Homo sapiens: one gene and its partner. The protein of the gene in region 1 purifies or fractionates together with the protein of each later gene. This does not show direct contact. Each region holds a gene or a part of one and is shown in the gene's direction. Other genes may lie near its edges.

The links. The genes of interacting proteins can lie anywhere in the genome.
Region 2: the proteins of BTNL2 (region 1) and DSC2 purify together in Homo sapiens (affinity purification with mass spectrometry; one large-scale study listed by BioGRID and IntAct). This does not show direct contact.

The regions. Positions count from the first base shown.
Region 1 is NC_000006.12:32,403,337-32,409,381, reverse strand, and holds the start of BTNL2 (butyrophilin-like protein 2 precursor), read left to right. Parts: upstream 1-2,200; 5' UTR 2,201-2,258; coding exon 2,259-2,337; exon of another isoform or gene 2,338-3,265; intron 3,266-3,824; exon of another isoform or gene 3,825-3,928; intron 3,929-4,095; coding exon 4,096-4,443; intron 4,444-6,045. UniProt on the Homo sapiens protein: Negative regulator of T-cell proliferation.
Region 2 is NC_000018.10:31,085,422-31,089,166, reverse strand, and holds part of DSC2 (desmocollin-2 isoform Dsc2a preproprotein), read left to right. Parts: intron 1-1,353; coding exon 1,354-1,498; intron 1,499-2,424; coding exon 2,425-2,591; intron 2,592-3,745. UniProt on the Homo sapiens protein: A component of desmosome cell-cell junctions which are required for positive regulation of cellular adhesion.

The DNA.
Region 1 (6,045 bases):
CAGACATTGCCAAATGTCCTCTAAGGGCAAAACAGCCTCTTTGCCCATTAAGAACCCTGGTCCAAGGTGGTTATCCTCCCTGATATATTCTCTCACAGTCTATCTGAGCACTGGAGATGGATTCTCCCAACATTCTTCGAAAGCTTCATTGATTTGAGCAATTTTTTTGAGAGTTCACTTGTAGATTTTCCCTCCCACCGCTTTGACATGAAAGACCTACAGGAACGCAAGCCTCTGAAGTGGTCTGTAGCAAGTGTGAGTTCATTTTAGTTCACAAGGCTGAGAAATCATGCTTGGTATGGATGTTGTGGGGCTTTCTTTACTCTTACTTGGTGGAAAAAAATGTTCCTGCTTTTCACAAAAGGAGTCAGGGAGGCATCAGCAACACCCTTCAGTCTAAGGGGAGGTGACTGGTAAGTTTCAGGTGGCAAGGTGCTCATGGTCTGCACTGTCTTCTAACACCCAACCCCATTTTCACATAAATATCATACTGCCCTTTTCGATCTAGGTATTGTGAATGGGCTCATATAAGTTTCCTTAGAGATATCTTATATGAAAGTACATATTTTTTATAAAGCAAATGGGCAATATTTGTGTAACAACAATCTCCTGACTCATTTGATTGTTAAATCTCCATTTCAGAATGTTGATTTTTACCCCTGTCCCATAAAATCTTACTAGCAGTAGTTTCTTGGAAAGGGGGAAACTGTAATTGACTTGACATTGCTCCTGAGCTGGTTTCTCTACTTTGTGTGAAGCAAGTTTTCTTTCAATAAAATACTTGACACATCACATATAATAAGTCTTAGACTTCTTTCACTCTGAAGTTTGTATTTTTCAATGGTAAAACTAGCCTTCTATCCTTGTCCTGGTAAGTTTTAAAGTTTTTAGCTGTGTGAAGTATTTTTGTTCAGCTGGGACAGTGGGGTTGCTGGGTTTGCCAGTTTCTGCCAGTTGGGCTTTTTGTTTTTTTAATTCATTCGTGTTTTTAAGTCTATTCTAAAAGGCCACTTACAGATATTTTCCCGACTATCTTTCTACTACTCTTTCTTTCACTTTCCACGGCATCTCTGTGTCCCGGGTTCTCTGAGCGCTAGCACTGAATGTTGGCTTTCTGGCTGCAGTGTGGAGACGCAGAGCCTTCCTGCCCTTTCCTCCATGTGTAGAAAACAGTGGTAAAGAAAGGCTTTGCAGGAGGAGTTGGGAGGAGGACAGGAAAAAATATTTGAATCTTGCTCTATAAGTTTTGCAAGCTCACAACAGATGAACCTAAGGAGTTTTGTTTGCTTTGGTTTGGTTTGGGGTTTTTTTAATATTATTGTTCCTTTACCTCAAGTGTTTTTTCATTTCAGTCACAAGACTTCCTTACACCTAAAAAATTGCTTAAAATATTGTCTCATGAAATTAGGGTTGCTGAGGCAGGAATAATTTCATAAAGTTCTATTGGAAGGCAAATGTCAGGACTGATGTAGGAAGACACACCAACGAAGTTGAGGGTGGTCCAAAGTCTGTTACAAGTTGGAAGGCTTTTGTAAGGAAGTTCAGGCAGAAAGAAAGGGGCTCTTCATATTGGAGTTGTCTTTTTTCACTGGAGGGTACAATACAGAGGTTACAATCATTGGACACAGATGACAATATATAGACTAAAATATTTCATGCACAAAACAATCAGTAAAACTTTATGATTCAGAAACAAATCCATATCCTTTTCGATGTCAGGAGGTTACATATTAACCACTACATCAAATTAGCTCAGAAGCTACATTGAAGCCGAACTACATCAACGTTTGGGTGTATGAGCAGATCTGGTTATAGGTTACAGAGGTATCCTTCAATCAGACGTTATCTTATGTGTAGGAAAAGGCAAGGACTATTATTGCTTATCTTTTAAGGAGTAGAGTGACTCAGGCAAGAGAGATGGGAGGCCGTGTGCTCAATCTTGTTTTGTCTTTGAAGCATCTTTCTGGAGAACTGCAGGTCATCACAGCAGGGGCTTTGTGAAAGTATGCTAGCAAGCCGAAATGAGCAAGCAAGGCTTCTTACATTTGCTACATTGTCTCACAATATAACACGTTAGGTAAAGGGTTGGATGTGATCAGTAATTGCAGAGAAATGGAGCCAAGCCCATTTCACTGACTGTGCAGGGGTTGATGTGGATTCTCTGCTAAGACTGCATAACCAATGGAAGCCATGGAGTGTGCCGGGTGTGTCACAGCCTCACTTAGGCACAGCGTTTCCTTGTCTTTGTTCCAGGGAGGATGGTGGATTTTCCAGGCTACAATCTGTCTGGTGCAGTCGCCTCCTTCCTATTCATCCTGCTGACAATGAAGCAGTCAGGTAGGATTCCCTTCTCCCTTTACTGTATAGTCTAATGTCCCAGTGAGCTAGTCTGGGTCCAAAGGTCGAGAACAACATCTAAGAGTGTAAGTCTGGGGCCAAGCCACCTGTATCCAAAAAGGAACTCCTCACTTTTGAGGAGCTCCTCCACTCCCAGGAGCTCCTCCACTCCTAGCTGAGTCACCTTTGGAAAGTTACTTGAGCACCTCATACCTTAGTTCTTTCATCTTTTTAATGAGAATAACAGCAGTAACTACATCTCAGAGGCCAGCACAGGCTTTAGGATTAAATGAGACATTAAAAGCACTTGAATCAGTGGTTGCACCACGTTAAATTATTAATTCACTCTAGTACTTTGGGGTCAAGAAATGCAGCTGCTTCTTATCATAAATTAAGCTGCAATTAAAAAAAATACTTGGAAATAAGAAATTAGAAGAAAGGGACTTTGGAAATCTCACTAGCTGAATTTTGACGTCAAAATGTTGCACCTTGAAAAATAATTATTTAAAAATTCAGTGTCAAAAAAAAAAAATCAGTGTCAGAAGGAGATGTCAGAGCCCTAAGGAAAATGCAGCATGGCGAAGTGGGAAAAAACACGACACAGAGCATCAGAGGGCGCAGGCTCTGCCTCGGCACCGCAGAGCTGGTGTGTCTGCCTCGGTGCCGCAGAGCTGGTGTGTCTGCCTTGGCGCTGCAGAGCTGGTGTGATGTGATGAAGCTGCTGGCTTCTCTGTGCTTGTGCTGCAGCTCCCTACCCTGTAACAGTCAATCTGATGGAATGTCTTCAGTTCTAGCTTCATATTTAGACTTCATCAATGAAGAATACAAGCAGATCTCCACTTAGGCTCTTTAGCCACCTTTTGAGCAGCATCTATTTGATACCCAGCAGCAGCTAAGTAGGGTGAGGTTCTTCCTAGCAGGATTGGATCTGCACAGAGAAAGAGCAAATGGCCCCGGAGCATTTAGAATGAGAAAGAACATATCATACATGACATAAAATGATCAAACATAATAACATACATAACTGTTAAACATCTCTTCAATTTGCAGATAACAAGGAAGAGATCAGACATGTCTTAGAATTTGTTTGGAAGACCCAAAAATCTCTAGACAAACCAGTGTCCTTAATCCAGCACAAAATGTCCTTGTGAAAACTGCATTGTACATAGTCCCAGTAATTGGCCTCCTGCCAACTCCAGACGGGAAAAAAACAAACAAAAAAAAAACAAAAAAAAAACAGTTTTTATATCTAAGAGAAGAGGAATCCTGAAAGGCTAAAAAAAGCTAATAAATGGATTTATTATCTAAACTTCAGGAAAATAAAATGTTAATAACAAGAATAAGGTTTCCAATTTAAAAAGTCAATTTACATGAGAATAAATGACTCAAGGAATAAATAATTTACTTGAGAATAAAAACAACCCAGGTATGCTGGTATTAATATCTTGAAGATGAAGAAATTAGGACTTCAAATCTCAAAATCTTACCAAGAGTAATAGATTTGCCACCGAATCACATAGCTGGTAGGTGACAGACAGCAACCTCACCCACATTTTTGAACTGCATTTGTTTTCAGTACACAAAATTGACTCTGTAACAAACAGATGTGCAAATCATCATGCTGGATTTCTCTAAAACATTAAACATATATCTCTCCCTCTTCTAGTTGCCTCCATTTTGACAGGCTGGACACCCCAAAGCATGCATATGATTTTCTGATTGGCATTTCCTCGTTCCTCTTTTTCACTTATTTTATAGAAGACTTTAGAGTCATTGGCCCTGCTCATCCTATCCTGGCCGGGGTTGGGGAAGATGCCCTGTTAACCTGCCAGCTACTCCCCAAGAGGACCACAATGCACGTGGAGGTGAGGTGGTACCGCTCAGAGCCCAGCACACCTGTGTTTGTGCACAGGGATGGAGTGGAGGTGACTGAGATGCAGATGGAGGAGTACAGAGGCTGGGTAGAGTGGATAGAGAATGGCATTGCAAAGGGAAATGTGGCACTGAAGATACACAACATCCAGCCCTCCGACAATGGACAATACTGGTGCCATTTCCAGGATGGGAACTACTGTGGAGAAACAAGCTTGCTGCTCAAAGTAGCAGGTGAATATCTGGGGAAAGACACAGGGTCTCAAGAGGCAGAGATATATTAATTTGTGGTAAGCTTTGTGACAGTTGAGGAAATCCTTTTGAATCATCAAGGTAATTCCTAATGCTTAGTCCTCTACCCTGATTGATTTAAAAATAAGTGGTTCTGGAGTCTTCAAGCTTAGTGTTAAAATATTTTCCCAAATTTAATTTGCACAGTTTTGACTGTTCTTGAGGATTATTTGGAATCCATGACATGCAGTCTTTAGCAATTTTGCTGAGACACACATTTGTGCTACCTAAGGCTGGTGCGCAAGAGCAAACCAATTGCTGCATGAATGAGCCCAGCTGACGTCCGGCATCTGTATCTCAGGGCATTGGTTTTTCTCTACCCAATCCCATCTATGCAGAAACTGAGACGTGAAAATGTTCTTTCCTTGTGAAATGCCCTCAGTTAGAAAGCTATCAACAAGACTGAAAAGGCTAAGAATGTCGTGCTTTGGAGATTGTTATATACTAGTGTTCAATGAATTGGGGACTCACAGATGCTTTTGGACACACCCTCTGTGAATGGGAAGGTTCTTCATATTGCTGTTGTATTAGCTAAGCAGGAAGGAGTAGGGAAGAAGGGGACAACTGAAGAATGGATCTGTCTTATGAAAAGTAAACTATCATATGATTCCCTGACAGGGCTAACTTCTCCATGCTCTAAAGAGAAAATCAAGTAAATCCAATTACTAAGGCAAATGGGGAAAATAGTTCTCTGGAGATGTTAACGTCTCCAGCTGATACTGCTTCCTTCTTTACTTCCCTGGGAGGCTGTTTCCTAATACCTTTTTTTTTCTTAACATCCATTACTGTTACTGTGTTCAAGGTGATTCAAAATGGATGGAGGAATACATATATTTCTGACATGGGGGGACAGGGAACGTACTGATGTATTTCAATATCAGGAACATTTACAAATAAGTCACACATTTTCTAAGGGTCCAAGGGAAGGGAGTGGATCTCTCTTTTACCAGCAAGTGATTAAGACAGAATTCCCATTTATGGAAAATATAGTCCCCTTAGTTTGGGTGTGGGAGTTTCACGTTAAATAGAGAAAAAAAATTCATGATTTCATAAACTGTTGTAAACTAGGATTTCTCAAAACCATCTTACCCATTGAATAGAATATTTAGCTACAAATAACGCCTCGTGGAGATTCGCATTTCACATGCTCCCGTTTATCCACTTGCTTCCGAAGATCACAGCCACCAGCAAAAGATGCAGGAAGAACAGGCCCCTGGGGAGTGATTTCTGACTTTGTGTTAAATCTTCAATCAAATTGGAGTTCAAGACATCATCTAAAATACCAGACAATGTGCCCAATACAGATAATTTTAAGATGAAAAAGGCAGAGTTCATGGCACAGAGGAATTAATGAATAAATTACAGCTCATCTCTGTTTGCAGTGCTAGAGGCGTTGCAAAATGTCATGATGTCCCCCTTCTCCGATTCCCCTTTCTGGATCTGGAGAAAAGTACTGGTCAGATGCTAAAATGTAAAGACCCAGACTGGGGAACAAATAAAGTGTATCTGAACTCACATTTGAATGGGGAGACTGAGGTCGACTTT
Region 2 (3,745 bases), on another chromosome or scaffold:
TTGAGACAGCATCTCACTTTGCCACCCAGGCTGAAGTGCAGTGGCGTAATCTCGGCTCACTGCAATCTCTGGCTCCGGGGTTCAAGTGATCCTCCCACCTTAGCCTCCTGAGTAGCTGGGATCACAGGCACGCACCATGATACCCAGCTAATTTTTTGTATTTTTAGTAGAGATGGGGTTTCACCATGTTGGCCAGGCTGGTCTCAAGCTCTTGACCTCAGGTGATCTGCCCATGTCGGCCTCCCAAAGTGCTGGGATTACAGGACTGAGCCACCGTGCCCGGCCAAGAACAGTTACTTAGTTGGCACAAAAAGATCTGTGAACCTCTTTATAGTATGGAGATATCATAGGAGGTAAATGAAGTTCAGTCATTAAGTAAACCTCAGTACCCTGGCAATGGGAGAGCATTAGTTTATGGGGAGCAGGTAGGGGGTGTGACAGTGCTTACCTAAGCTTACTCAGTCCTTTAATCATCTGGTTAATTTCCTATGCTGGAAAGTGAGTTAATATGAAAGAATTTAACCTAATGCTGGTTTGATTTCCCAACAGGACTTGGTCATTTTGCTTAAGTCAGTTTTAATTATTTTATGTCTATTTTGGATGAATTAATTATTCATTAGAAGACCAAATTAATCAAATAAGACAGGCAAGCTTTGAATAAAGTATTTAGGTTTAGAATTGCCATGGCCTGGCCTTCTGAGTACCTAGGATGTTCTGGCCTTTCTATGATAGCTGTTATGAGAAAATTGGTATTGAAATTCATATTATAAAAACAAAAAAATTAAACTGTATTCCACCACAGTTTACCACCATTCATTTGTTTCATTTCTGATTCACCCTTTTTAAATTAAAAATTCTTTGAAAAGACTTACCCAAATGTAACCATTGATATGCCTAAAGTCCTCATTAGTAGAAAATAGGATAATATCCCAGTTAACTGTACCTGGGTAATCCTACAGGATCCCAAGTTCAGAAAGATCCAGAAAGTTGTATTTAAAATCCATGCACCTGAACCTTTCAAACAAAGCAAAATAAAGAAGTCTTCAAGGCTGTTTGGGAAAATAACAGTAAAAATTGTTACACTCATGAATAACAGTATAGCAATAATGAAGAAACTAAAATTATCTTTCATAAATTTAAAGAGATAAATTTAAACATACAATGCCATATTGAATCATGAAATTAGGCACCTCTTTGGCATTAAAATTATATCCATATCCCAGAACAATAACAAATGGTGAGACTCATACTGTAGTTCTGAACAGTCTCCAAGTTAAAGCCAAAATGAATTTGAAGCATACCTCATTTTAAAAGATTATTTTCACTTTTCTCCTTATTTTACTCTCTTCACAGATAATTGCCTTTGCAACAACTCCAGATGGGTATACTCCAGAACTTCCACTGCCCCTAATAATCAAAATAGAGGATGAAAATGATAACTACCCAATTTTTACAGAAGAAACTTATACTTTTACAATTTTTGAAAATTGCAGAGTGGGTGAGTACCTCCTTAAACAATATATGGCAAATTAACTGTGTTTCAATTCATACATTTAGTTTCACTATGTCCGTTGAGAAGCAGCGTATCCCAGCAGCAAGAATAAGGGACTCTGGGTGGAATTTTACTCTGTGTTTCACTAGCTGTGTGATGCTTGGCAAATTTCCTAATCTTGGCAAGCCTAATTTCTTCATCTGTAAAATGGGTTATCAGTATGCCAGATTGTTATGAAGATGAAGTGAAGCTCAATACACAGCGAATGCCAAGCACAGTGCCTGACAAATAGGAGTTAATAAATGTTATGCTGTCATCCTATGGATGGATGGATGTAAGAGAACATAGCCCAAAAAGAATAAGTCTTTCACTAATTGGAGATGTAGTCTTAAAGATATGTACGGATGTTCTCTAGGATTAAATGTGATTGCCAGTATTCTGGGCACGATTATGAAAGTCACTGAGAATAATACAAACATTTTCTCAGCCCTGTGAAAATGGTCTGTTTTAACTAAAAGTCAGAATGCAGTTTTGGAGACCTTGTCTAGAAATGTCTAAGTGAACCATGCAGTTTTAGAGAAAACTGACTCCTATGATCAATCTAAGCACAAGCTTACAAACAGAGAAAAGTTATAGAATAATCAGAATTGTTTAGTCTGAAAATACATGGAGGGATAGTATCAACATTTATAAAATCATACATTAAATACAATAAATATGAATATGATCACCCAATTCGAAAATGCTAGTATGCCAGAATATTTGAAAGGAAGTGATACTGTATGGAGAGGTCTGCAAATTTATAAAAGCCATGACTTTGCCATGTAATAATGTGGTCCAGAACTTTTTTGAGGTGGGTGAAAAGGAATGAAATAAAGGGAACATAGAACATGTGAATGTTTTGGAGATTAAAAAGGACTTTTCTTCTCTAGGCACTACTGTGGGACAAGTGTGTGCTACTGACAAAGATGAGCCTGACACGATGCACACACGCCTGAAGTACTCCATCATTGGGCAGGTGCCACCATCACCCACCCTATTTTCTATGCATCCAACTACAGGCGTGATCACCACAACATCATCTCAGCTAGACAGAGAGGTAACATAAACATTAATAAAACCTGATTATAACGTGGCTATTCAATAGTACCTGTATAACTCCTGTAGATGTGTTTTTGAAAAGTATGTTGTGAATCTCATTTTAGAAACATTATTATTTTATGTATGTTAATAGAGATCACTAAATAACCTTGGAGTATGCTGGTTTTGAACTGCTAATTCATTCTTTTCTGAATTGTTTGTTTCATACAATCAGATTTCCTGATATAAACATATTTACAGTATTAAAACAAAATGTCAAATATGAAAAGTGAACCTTTTAAATATATGCAGAAATTTGTTATCTTTTCAACAATCTCATCTACATTCTACCTCTTACATAGATGAAAAGACAGTTTATGTCTCTCTAATCTCTGGTTTCCCATTTTTAATCAACTGCTAGAAATCTTGATTTGGATGTCTGACAGGTACTTATGATGTAATAAATCTAAAATTTAACTTGTCTTCTTTTCTTCTAAACATATTTTCCATTCTATGTTTTCTAGTTAAAAAGATATTTATATATTCTTTCTCTATTAATCATTTTCTATTGTCACCTTGGAGTCATGGTCTCCAAATTGTATTTGATGTCTCTTGGCCCCCCTGAATCACATCACTTCCTAAAGCATGTTTTTACCTCCAAGATTGTTTTAAATCTATATTCTGTCTCTTTCTACTGCAATACCCTAGCTTAGTAATTCATTCACTTAGTTATTCAACTATTACCTCCTCCCTGAAGCATTATTCATCTAAATTCTTATAGCAGTTTCTGTGTCCTTATTTACTATATTTATAATCCTTAATCTTAAAATATAGTAATAGATGTTTATCAGGTATTTTATTTGATTCTTAAGTCTTAAATCTTCAGATTAATTTTCTCTTCCTTCCTCTATCCCTCATGGATTAGGGTAGAGGTTCTCAAAAGCTTTGGTCTCAAGACCAATGCTTGACATTATTACATATTGTTAAATATTGTTGAATACTGTTAACAGTGTTAAATATTGTTGAAAATCCCAAAGATCTTTTATTTATCTAGGTTATATTTATCTATGTTACTTGTTAATGTTTAAAACTAAGGAAAGTTTAAATTATATATTAATTTAAATATTAAAAATAATAAATTAATTACATGTTAACAGTTAAAATTCTTATAAA